3 separate regions of the Homo sapiens genome follow, and regions 1 and 3 are each linked to region 2. The links come from fine-mapping of genetic effects on gene expression. A gene starts in region 2. Each other region holds a variant in brackets. All regions are shown on one strand. Distances are between the middles of the regions.

Region 1 (4,243 bases), 25 kb before region 2:
CCTGGTAGCCTCCCCACGACTTGACGATTTGAGCGTCTGAGTGACAGGGCCATCTTTTTCATTTTTCTATTCCTCGGAGCACCCTGCTCAATATTTTACATTTAGGTACTCAATGTGTGGTTTGAATTGAATTGAATGCAACAACTGGGATTTAGATTTGCTGGATGAACCACTACCCTGTGTACCCTCAAAAATACACGAACTTGGGTAAGTTTCACAACTAGGCTGGAGTGGTTGTCAACAGTGAGCCCATGAAAAGGGCTACACACAGCCTGAAATTTTCTAGATAGTCTTGGATCAAAGTAGCCTATCTTGTTCTCTGAGTATATGTACACTTTTTTTTTTTTTGAGACCGAGTCTCGCTCTGTGGCACGATCTTGGCTCACTGCAACCTCCGCCTCCTGGATTCAAGTGATTCTCCTGCCTCAGCCTCCTGAGTAGCTAGGACTACAGGCGCCCGCCACCATGCCTGGCTAATGTTTGTATTTTTAGTAGAGACAGGGTTTCACCATGTTAACCAGGATGGTCTCCATCTCTTGACCTTGTGATCCACCCACCTCAGCCTCCCAAAGTGTTGGGATTACAGGCATGAGCCACTGCACCCAACAAATTTTACACCAGAGGTTTCTAATTTGGGACTTGGAAAGTTAATGGCTATATCTGTGGCACATCAGTATAACAATAATGACAATAATAATGGTAGCCAATAAACATTTGTCAAGTGCCAAGCGCAGAGTTAAGTAAGCGCTCTTTCCTGTAGCCTGACAATTACATGAGGCACTAGGTAGAGAAGTTAGGTGGTATCTTTATTTGTGGCTTTACCATTCATATGTTTTTCCTAATGACTTTTTGGACTCTGACCTGAGGCTCTTCATTGCAGGCTCAGCCCAGGTCTGACTTGGTTGAAGCAGGAGACAAGTTTGCTGGAAAGCTGAAGGAGAACTCTCCCACATCTGATCTGCTTTTGGGTTTATGGGTTGATCAGAGTTTTACTCACAGCAACTGTCAGCTGTTAATAAAGACAACAATTTGATCCCATCCTAACCACCAGCTTAACTTCTTCCAAGGAGGCCTGTGGTTTTTCCAAATGAGGGTTTTCTTTCTTTTCTAGCAACTCAAAATACCCTGTTTATTTATTTTGTTTTATTTATTTGTATTTTATTTTTACCTTGCATTCAAGCTAACAAGTTATGGATCCTATTTACTTAGAGTTATTTAGTACATGCTTTATATAAGTGTGAAATATTCTTGACCGGGCGTGGTGGCTCACGCCTGTAATCCCAGCACTTTGGGAGGCTGAGGTGGGCAGATCACCTGAGATCAGGAGTTTGAGACCAGCCTGGTCAACATGGTGACACCCCATCTCTACTAAAAATACAAAAAAATTAGCTGGGCGTAGTGGTGTGCACCTGTCATCCCAGCTACTCAGGAGGCTGAGGCAGGAGAATCACTTGAACTCTGGAGGCGGAGGTTGCAGTGAGCCAAGATCACACCACTGTAAGCCACCCTGGGCAACAAGAGTGAAAACTCCGTCTCAAAAGAAAAAAAACGTTTGGAATATTCTTTATGGTTTCTTGTAACATGCCCTATTCTATTGTATGTTGTCATAAAATCAAGGCAGAGAACATCTGAAACTTGCTGTCTCATTTTCTCCTATCATGCTTCCTGGGACCTTTTTCCTTCATATCCCATCAAGCCCAGCTCCTGTGCTAATACTCCATCTAGAATTTCCC[A/G]TAACCTACTGCAAAATCTGTTTCTTAATAGGTGAGGCCAGGCGTGGTGGCTCATGCCTGTAATCCCAACACTTTGGGAGACCAATGTGGGAGGATCACTTGAGCCCAGGAGTTCAAGACCAGCCTGGGCAACATAGAGAGAATCTGTCTCTTTTCCATCGAGGCCATCAGTTACTGTCTTCTAAAGAGAAGGCAAGCCCATTCTCCAGCCCAGGACAGAAAATTGCAGTGATGGATTCACTCATTCCACAAATATTGATTGAATGTTTTCTCTGCAGGGCACGATTGCAGGTGTCAGGGATGCAAGAGTGATTAAGAGAGAGGGGGCCCTGCCCTCATGGAGCCTCACTCCAGAGGGGTAAGTCACCTCCAAGAGGCCAAGCCCTGGGGCCTGATGGGGCTGGGAGAGTGGGGGTAGTAGGGTATTACTCTGATGGGGCTGGGAGAGTGGGGACAGTGGGGCATTACCCGCATGGCTACAATGACCAAGGGCCCTTCTCTCCTGGCCACTAAGGACTAATTAATTTAGCAGCACATGCTTCAGAAACAAGAGTTGAACCTTTGTTGGGAGATACGGGTGGGATCTTGTTTCTTAGGGACCTTGTAAGTCGGCACCGAGGAGTTCTCCCCCTCCAGCCCTGTTTCTGATCCTGCACCAAGAGAAGGCTTTGTGTAGAGGCCACTTCGCTGCTGTCAGCATGACTAAAAACACAGCACAGCTACTCTGGAGTGATCACTCTGTGAACTTTGATCAAAACATTGCACTATTCCAGCATGAGCGCCAGCACCTTCCCCTTCCCTGTTTCCCCATAGCCAGTCTCAGAGGACACTCCGGAGACTCTGGCAGGTAATGCCCAAAAGGCCAGCCTGTCCAAAGTGCCAGAGGGCCGAGGGACAGTTGTGGGGAACCTTCCAAAGAACAGCATGCCAATACTGCTTATGTGCCTCATGAGAGAGGTGTAGGGCCTCTCCTGCTTTGACAGGGCCTAACGTGGGTCTGTGACTGAACAGAGAGCAAAAGCGTGCCCTGAAATTGGCAGAGCCTCTGCTATCCTGAGTCAGCGCTGGCCAGGAGGTCAGGAAGGGGGAGACTGAGAGAAAGGATACAGCTAGCATATTCTTAGTGAAATCTTGGCTGGATTTTGACAGACATTCAATGGCTTCTCTTCCCTCTAGACGTGTAGCCCACACCAAAGGAAAAGGAAGATGGTGAGCTGAAACAGAAGTCAGAAATGCAGGCAAGATATGTCTGCTGGCTAAGGATGGTATTTTATAAAAGCAGCATTGTCTCAGAGAAGGTCCTTGACATACATGTCTGGTGAGCAATGCAGATATCAGAACTTAGGCCCCCAAAAGTGGCCCTATGGCCATCCCTAACCTTGACCTATGCATTGGAAAGAGGGGCACAGTTCATGATGGAGGAAGGGACAGCACAGTCTCTGACCCCAAAACTTAGGATGAGGGTATACTGTATTTTTTTTTTTTTTTGAGACGGAGTCTCACTTTGTCACCCAGGCTGGAGTGCAGTGGTGCAATCTCAGCTCACTGCAACCTCCGCCTCCCGGGTTCAAGTGATTCTCCTGCCTCAGCCTCCCAAGTAGCTGGGACTACGGTGTGCACCACCACACCCGGCTATTTTTTTTTTTATTTTTTTATTTTTAGTAGAGATGGTGTTTCACTATGTTGGCCAGGCTGGTCTCGAACTCCTGACCTCAGGTGATCAGTCTGCCTCGGCTTCCCAAAGTGCTGGGATTATAGGCGTGAGCCACCACGCCCGGCCATATACCATATTTTGAACTAAATTTCTCCCAGCCTATCTCAACAACACTTGCCATAGTTCCTTGTTTTCCTGAGAGAGATAGTAACGGCCATCTTCCCTCTGTAGAAGGAGAGCCTAAGGCAGAAACAAGGTACCATGTCCAGCATTAGTGAGTCTTTAGAAAATCAAAGAATAAAATTTATGTCTTTTTCAAGCTCACCTCTTACAAAGACCTGAACCACCAACAGGGTCAGAATGGCACAGCCTCAGCCAGACGTGGTGGCTCATGCCTATAATCCCAGCACTTTGGGAGTCTCAGGTGGGATTGCTTGAGCCCAGGAGTTTCAGACCAGCCTAGGCAAGATGGTGAGATCCATCTCTACAAATTATTTTTTATTTTTTTGCCAAGTATGATGGCATACACCTGTAGCCCCAGCTACTCGGGGAGAGGCTGAGGTGGGTGGATTCCTTGAGCCCAGGAGTTCGAGGTGACAGTGAGCTTTGATTTCACCGCTGCACTCCAGCCTGAGCTACAAAGGGAGACCCATCTCTAGAAAAAACAAATGGCACAGCCTCTATGGAAAGCGGTACGGTGGGTCCTCGAAAAAATTAAACAGAATTACCATATATCCACCAATCCTACTTTTGGATATTTATCCAAAGTAACTGAAAGCATGACTTCTATTGAAAGGAATTGAAAGGAAATAATTGAAAGGAACTCATGCAGATAATTGTATACCCAGGTTCACAG
Region 2 (4,243 bases):
GACATGAGATTCTTCCACAAATGAGGTGGGGAGGGGTTGGAGGAAACTATTATTTCTAATACACCCTTCAGGCAACAGGTGCAAGCATAGAGAGTTCCAGCTTAAACTTTAGGATGGTATGACAGTGACAGGCATTTAGCAGAAAGTGCACTTCAGGGCTGGGCGCGGTGGCTCACGCCTGCAATCCCAGCACTTTGGGAGGCCGAGAAGGGTGGATCATGAGGTCAGGAGATTGAGACCATCCTGGCTAACACAGTGAAACCCCGTCTCTACTACAAATACAAAAATTAGCCAGGCATGGTGGCACACGCATGTAGTCCCAGCTACTCAGGAGGCTGAGGCAGGAGAATCGCTTGAACCTGGGAGGTGGAGGTTGCAGTGAGCCAAGATCATGCCACTGCACTCCAGCCTGGGCAACAGAGTGAGACTCCGTCTCAAAAAAAAAAAACAAAAAGTGCACTTCGGATTCTGAAGACTGGCCTTTATCCCACAGGCAAGGGATATGCTGTATGACACTCTCCTGATGCTGGGCATGGCTGTGAGCCAAAGCACCCAGGCAGCCCTGCCATCAGAAGGGTAAACCACGGACACCTGATGCCTTCCTGAAGGAAGAGCACTACGCCTGCCAAACCATCAAGCGTTGATGCTCCAGCGCCTTCTACCCGTGGTTCTCCAGCCTCAGCAGAAGAGAGAGAAATTGATGACCCTGTCGTTGTAGCATCCCCATCACCCAGCAATTAATTTTAGTTCAATGCTTCAAACGCTCTTCAGGCGCAGTGTGCGTTCAGCTGTGTCAGCTAATGGTGAGTACCCGGACAACCATTCTGTTTCACATTCAGTACAGTATTCAATAAATCACATGAGATACTCAACACTGTATTATAACATAGATAGGCCTGTGTTACATTATGTTGCCCACTGTAAGCTAATGTAAGTGTTCTGAGCACGTTTAAGGGAGGCGAGGCTGAGCTCTGATATTCGATAGGTTAGGTGTATTCAAAGCATTTTAGACTTTCAATATTTTCAATTTACAATGGCTTTTATAGGGATGTCACTCCACCGTAGGTCGAGGAGAATATGTAGTCAAGTTGCCTGGTCATGAGCACATTTTAGGTCAAGGTGTGTTTTACGCAGCTTCTAGGGTTTGCTCCTTCCTTTTGAGTTTGAGCCTGGGGGTGTGGGTTGAGGATAAAGAGTAGGTGTGGGCCAGGAGTGGTGGCTCACATCTGTAATCCCAGCACTTTGGGAGGCCGAGGTGGGAGGATCTCCTGAGCCCAGGGGTTCGAGATCAGTCTGGGGAAGGGACGAGACCTTGTCTCTACAAAATTAAAATAAAAATAAATAAATTAGCCAGGCCTGGTGGTGCATGCCTGTAGTCCCAGCTACTCAGGAGACTGAAGCAGGAGGATCACTTGAGCCCAGGACTTTGAGGCTGCAGTGAGCTATGATCACGCCACTGCACTCCAGCATGAGCAATAGAGTGAGACCCTGTCTGTATTGAGAGAGAGAGAGAGAGAGAGAGAGAGAGAGAGAGAGAGAGAGAGAGACACACACAGAGAGACAGACAGAGAGAGAACAAAGAGCAGGTGTGATCGGAGCTCAGGAAATCCTCCCTCTGGTAAGTAGTCTCAGCCTTCTATTGAGGCTGCCACCACAGTGCCATCCACAGCTTTTGCAGACCATGACATACGCAAACTGTTGTAAAATTTTGGCAGTGCTCATAGTCTCAGAGCCAAGCTTTGAAACAGAGAGGCAGCAGGAGACAGTGGGAGGAGGGTGGGATTAGAGACAGAAGGTCTCCGGGTTTGAATCTTTTCTCTCTATTGGCTGGTTGTGTGACTCTTGTCTCAGCTTCTTGGGCTGTACAAAGAGAAAACTAACACCTGCCTTAGAGACTTGTGATGATTTAATGTAGAGTGTGTGACATGTTATTGGATATTAGCAATTGCTGATATTTATAATGAAGAGCACTGGAAGCTGTCACAGTTCTCATAGTTTATTTTGCATTTGCTCCTCAGCATCCTCTGCTCATCTCAGTGTCTGTGTGGTCTTAGTGGGATGCTGACTATATTAATACTTGTAAACTTTACTCATTTTCCATCTCAAATGGGACAAGGGATAAAAATTATTTTTTATATTGTATATTTATTTAGTAAGTGAGCACTTTCCATTTTAGGCACTGGAGACACAGAAATGAAAGAGACAACGTGCCCTCAAGGATCTCACAGTGTGTGGTGAGGTGGACACACACACACATATCTAAGCACATGACAGTGAGAGGCACGTGGTCACGAGGTTGTGACGTGGAGCTGAGAGCTCAGAGGAAGGGCTTTGGATCAAGTGTGGTCAGACCACACTCGGCCATGAAAGTCTTTGAAGGTGGGGAAGGGGTGAAGATGGTGAGGGGATTCCACGGCTGGGAGAGGTACACTCCCTACACGTTCTAACCAACTGGCCGTGGGGAGGAAGCTGGAGGTCAGGACACAGGTAGGGCCTGGGTTTTTGCCTCATGTGACTGGGTGGATGGTCACAATTCGGCCATGCTGTCTTTGAACTCAACACCACCAAAATCATAGGATATTCCTAGTAATGTTGATTTCCACTAGATTACTTTTGTTACCAGAGTTTTAAGGGCAGAAGTCTTTGTCCCTTTTTTTCTCTAACAGGAAGCCATTCTGGGCCATTTATTTGCCGTTAACTTACACAGCCCACTGGAGAGTGGAGGGGTGTGAATGTGGGAGCCTGGGTGAGGGCTGCACCGGACTGTCACCAGGACAGTCCTCAATGCTGCCTGACTTAGCCACATTGCCAAAAACATACACCCATAGGTTATGAAATATTCAATACTGTATTGTATGGGAGAAATACAAAGAGGAGAAAGAACTGGGTTGAAAAGGTGGTCTGGTCAGGTATCTCAACCCACTGGCTTATAGACCAGGAACCACTCTAGACAATGCATGTAAGGAACAGAAATGGGAAACAAAAACATTTAAATTGTATTTTTCTCTGATTGCAATAAACTTGGAGGAAAGCTATTTTCTTACTTTGAGCTTTTCTTCCAATTATGATGAATGCAGAGATTAATTACAAAGGACCCGGATAAACTAAAACTCATCTACAGCATTTTTTTTTTTTTTGAGATGGAATCTCGCTCTGTTGCCCCGGCTGGAGTGCAGTGGCGCGATCTCGGCTCACTGCAAGCTCCGCCTCCCGGGTTCACGCCATTCTCCTGCCTCAGCCTCCTGAGTAGCTGGGACAACAGGCACCTGCCACCACGCCCAGCTAATCTTTTTTGTATTTTTAGTAGAGACGGGGTTTCACCTTGTTAGCCAGGATGGTCTCCATCTCCTGACCTCGTGATCTGCCTGCCTTGACCTCCCAAAGTGCTGGGATTACAGGCGTGAGCCACCGCGCCCGGCCTCTACAGCATATTTTAAAAGGCAAAAAGGTATTTTAAAATTCATGTTGGAAGACGTGGGCTCTAGCTGGGGCTGAGACAGATGATTCAACTATATTTTTTATTTTACTGCGCACTGAGGGTTGAAGCTGAAGAGCATGCATGCTTACCATTGTGTGTGCACATGTGTGTATGTGTGTCTTACACCAAAGACTGAAATCTCAAAAAAGCCCCAGGGAGCAGGTGTAACTATTATGCTACAAATGAACAGGTGTATTGTGGATCGCTGTTATATAGTTCTTTTCTTCAAACATACCTTCCTGATATAACGTTTTCTTCCTGAAAGCAAACAGTTTCTACTATTGGATTCTTGAGTGTATCATTAAGCTTCTCCAAACACAAATAACATCTACTATGCTTTAAAAGTAATGGCCCACACAGCTACTTATTTGTGTGACTGTTTATCTGTTTATACCTTTGCCTGTTTTTATCTTCAAGCAAATGGGGGATCTCAGAAGTCTTAATGAAGTAACTATCCCTGAACACTGGGATCAATACTCAGCATCCAGCTGTCAAATCAACACCAAGGTATGTACCGGGGAAAGGAAGGTTTTAGGTGAACTCCTAGCTGCATGTCTGGTTAACCTGCAACCACACAAAGCAGCTGGGGTAAAGGTGTGTCCCGATGCCTTGTGGTGTACTTGGAACTCCACAGCCAAAAGATTAGACGTTGTTTGCTCACTGTGTTCAAAACAAGAGGTGTAAAGGAAGTTCAGCAACAACCGAAAGATGACTCGTAATTTGTAACTGACTGGCTATGCTTGGCGAGCCTGGTGTATTTATAAT
Region 3 (4,243 bases), 46 kb after region 2:
ATATCCCAACAGTAATATGTCATTTAAAACTTAAATTCCTAATAAATTGAATGAAAATGAATAGTTTTACTGTACCTTATTTTCAGTTGTGCCCCAAATCCTCTCTGCAACTCCCCCTTTTTTGAAAACAGTGGTCTTGAAGAGTTTTCTGAATGTCTTATCATTATTGATGCCCCTGGGCCAAAGAAACTTCTTAAACACTGCCGGAGTCTTCTGTATACCGTGGTTTCTGCTTTAATTGTTTCTACCTCAGATTCCTTCTGGCTTAAATATTTCCTCTTTCATGCCTCTGTCCAGGTGACTACCTGCTAGTTATTACCTCTTCTCCACTCCCTGGACTCAGCAATGTTTTCTATCTTCCTACTCCCAACATTTGGTTATTCTGGGTTTCGTGTCATTTGCTCTTGCCTACACGATTTATGAAAGAAGACAAATCCTGACCTTGATCAACTCCACTCCTGAATGCCTTGGCCTCTATCACTGCATAAAGCTGGAAAGAATCTTAAAAGCTGTCTGGTCCAACCTGCTCATTTTACAGATCTGTGGGGCTCTGTGGTCAAATGAACAAAGGAAATACTAAGTTTAAAAAGTTAAACAGGTGCAACCACTTTGGAGAGCTGTTTGGCAGTTTTTATAACATTGAACATATATACCCTATGGTCCAGCAATTTCACTTCTACATGTTTACCCAAGAAAAATGAAAACATATGTCTACAAAAAGACTTACATAAGAATGTTCATACCAGCCTTACTCATTATAGTCAAAACTTGGAAACCACCCAAATATCCATCAACAGGATAATGGATAAACAAATTATGAGATATGTGTGTATATATATATATATATATAATCTCTCTATATATTACAATATAGATGTATATAATCTATCACACTTATTTACATACACAATGCAATACAACTCAACAATGAAAAAAAGAACTACTAATATACACAACAGCATTGACACAACTAAAATATCTTCACACTGAGCAAAAGAAGCAAGCCACACAAAAATACATGTGGCATAGTCCAAGAACAAGCAAAGGCAGATGATGCTGATGAGCGGTAAGACAGTGGTTGTCTCTGAGTGCGGACAGTGGGTTGGCTGGAATCGGGCATGGAGAAACTTTCTGGGGTGATGGAAATATTCTACATCTTGTTTTGGGTAGCAGTAAACTGAGCATTAAACTCTCAAATATTATTGAGTTGAATACAAGACCTGTGCATATGTTCATTCTACCTCAACTATATATTAAAAAATTAAACATTTCTTTACTCTGCGGCTTTCCAGAGGATTTAATAAGCAAATATGTATTGTGCATCTTTAAGAAGGAGACACAGCCTAGAGTGTTTTTTAAACGTGTTTGAGGAGGGGACATTATTTGAAGGAGCATCTCATGGAACAGGAAACACTGTAGAGGAGTGATGTTTTCGTTCGAATATTGACTTTAGAGCATCTCACCAGGACTATGTTTTCTGCTGTGATTTCCTTCCTTCTGCTCAGCCTAGAGATGGACTGCTCGTGCCAATCCATGGGGCAGGGGGGCAGGGGGATGAGGTGCCTGCTGTGGCCCAATTCTCCTGCCTTCCTGTTACCAGACTGGAGCCCTCCATTGGCACCCTGCCCTCTCTAGGCCACTGGATCACCACCACCTTTGCCTGCTGTCAGAGCTAAGAGACCCACTTGGGCATCTGCTGTATTTGCAGAATTGTATCAGTCACACGGTTCATTTATTCAGCCATGGGTGCATGCATTCACTTACTTACAACCTATATCTCTATGAGTGCCTCCACATGTCTATCACTGTGCAGTTCCCTGGAGACACAAAACTGAGTAAGGCATAATGCCTGCCTTAAGGGGGAAAGAGTCACACAAACACAGTTTTGCTTTTTTTTTT[G/TG]AGATGGAGTCTCTCTCTGTTGCCCAGGCTGGAGAGGCGTGATCTCGGCTCACTGCAAGCTCCAGCCTCCCAGGTTCATGCCATTCTCCTGCCTCAGCCTCCTGAGTAGCTGTGACTACAGGTGCCTGCCACCATGCCTGGCTAATTTTTTGTGTATTTTGAGTAAAGATGGGGTTTCATCATGTTAGCCAGGATGGTCTCGATCTCCTGACCTCATGATCCTCCCGCCTTGGCCTCCCAAAGTGCGGGGATTACAGGCATGAGCCACCGCGCCCAGCCACAAACACGGTTTTTAAACAATGCAGAACTGCAGTATTAGAGCAATGCCTAAGGTCTTATTTTTATTTTATCCCTTCTCCTGCAAACATGCGATTCTCTTTTCCTCCTATGGGTCTGCCAAAGGCGAAAATAAGAATACCAACCACCTGATACAAAAGGACAATTATTACTTTGACCAAAAGGATATCTGCTGCAAGAGAAATACTCTAGACATCAGTGGAGTGGTAGGGTAGTGCAGCAGGTAGGGGCTCCAGGGCCTGCTGGGGCTTTGCTGCACATTTTGGGGTGCAGCAGCTAGGAAGGAAACACAGAAGTGGGTGCTCCAATGATGAGGTGACACCTAGATATATAAGTCCTGATCTTCATAAGTTCAATGGTTTTTTTTCTTATCTTGTTTCTCAGGAGGGGCGAAGGGAGGTGAGCTTTATAGATTTTGTAGAAGAGGGCAGTCCCACAAAATGCCTCCTGACTTCTTATTCATTGTTCAGCTCAAACGTGTGATATTTTCTGAGCTTGAACTGGCAGTGGGGCAGGTGGGGAGGGTAAATTCAGCTGTGAGCTGCACACTCAAGGGCAGCAGAAACAACCGGGCATTGGCCTTGTCAATGACCTTCACAAGCAGGTGTCCAAGGAAGGTGGTGAAGTATTATTCAGTATTATTTAGACTAGAAGGTTCTTAGAGAGGAACATCTCTTGTTTATTGGCCTAAAAAAAATTAACATGCAGCAAGATTGACCTTGGGTGTGTGTAGAATTCTACGCCTTTTAATGAGTGTAGAGAATCAGGTTGCAGAACAGCTTCATCACACCAAAATGTCTTCATGCTGTCCCATTTTAATCACACCCTCATCCCACCCCGAACCCTAGCAACCACTGATCTATTCTCTGTTGCCAAATTTTTATTTTTGAAATTGCTATATAAATGAAATCATTACAGTACATAACCTTTTGAGTCTAGTTTCTTTCACACGAGGTAACTGTCTGTAGATCTTTCTTTAGTAATTCTTCTACAGCACGACTGCTGCCAAAAATTCTCTTATTTTTCATGTATCTGATAATGTTCTTATTCCACCTTCATTCCTGAAGGATATTTTCTTAGAATATAGAATTCTAGGGTGACAATTTTTTTTCTTTCAGCATTTTATCATCTTGCCTCCAATTGTTTTAGATGAGAATTCCACAGTCATTTAATTGTTCCTCTATAAATAGTGTGTTGGTTTTCTCTGACTGTTTTAATATTTTCGGGGCTGGTTTTAGTTCTTAGCAGTTTCATTAGAATGTTTGGGCATAGGTTCCTCTGGGTTTGTCCTGTTTGGAGTTCACTGAATTTCTATAGGTTTGTGCTTTTTGCCAAATTTGGGAAGTTTCCAGTCTTTATTTTTTGAGTATTTTTCTGTACCACACTTTTTCCTGTCCTTTTGGAGCTCTGATGACACAAATATTAGGCTTTTGGGGAATTGTTTCACAGGACCCTGAAGTTCTGGGTGGTTTTTAATTTTTTTTTTAATTTTTACTTTTCTCAATCTTTATTCTCTTTGCTAAAGCTTTCTAGAGTGTTGGTTCTTACTTCTTAGAGCACTTTTATAAAAGTCGCTTTAATTTCTTGTCAAATAACTATCACATTTGTGTTTTCTTCATATTGACATCCATTGATTGTCTTTTCTCTCATGAGTTGAGATTTTCCTGGTTCACATGGCGACTAGTTTTGAAGCATATCATGAGCATTTTGAATATTATATTATGAGACACTAGGTCTTGTTTCAATCTGTACAGGTTTGTTCATTTACTTATGTTTTTTTAGCAGGCAATTGACACAATTGGTTTAGACTGCAAGTTCTGATCAGCTTTCTGTGGTTGTGGTTGCAATGTCAGTTCTATTTTCAAAGTCACTGTGGTCCTGTTCACGTTTCTCCTGGGTGCCTATTATTTCATGGTCAGGATGGGACCTAGATAGCGATGTAGCTGTTAATTCAGTTCTCAAAGTCTCTGTTATGATGTTTGTGATCAAATCCAAGAATGCACAGCTCAAGGGTGTGCCCACAAGCCAGCAAATAACTGTCTGGGTT

What was found. PIP is the estimated chance that this variant, and not a neighbour inherited with it, causes the effect. A credible set is the group of variants that fine-mapping cannot tell apart.
Region 1: its variant is the best candidate, but not a certain one, in a credible set for the expression of LINC00426 in whole blood (TOPMed, PIP 0.70).
Region 3: its variant is the best candidate, but not a certain one, in a credible set for the expression of LINC00426 in lymphoblastoid cells (TwinsUK, PIP 0.51).

What each region holds. Positions count from the first base shown.
Region 1 is chr13:30,397,196-30,401,438 of GRCh38, reverse strand. No RefSeq gene overlaps it. Among named protein-coding and RNA genes, the nearest start is that of LINC01058, 23 kb to the left of the region's middle. The variant A/G (reference allele first, on the strand shown) is at 1,734.
Region 2 is chr13:30,372,027-30,376,269 of GRCh38, reverse strand. LINC00426 (long intergenic non-protein coding RNA 426) reads left to right here and starts at 2,356. Exons shown (of 5, transcript NR_024464.2): 1 at 2,356-2,487; 2 at 3,896-3,985.
Region 3 is chr13:30,325,670-30,329,912 of GRCh38, reverse strand. The region is part of intron 1 of LOC124903145 (a long non-coding RNA gene); the gene reads right to left. Among named protein-coding and RNA genes, the nearest start is that of LINC00427, 7.9 kb to the right of the region's middle. The variant G/TG (reference allele first, on the strand shown) is at 1,900.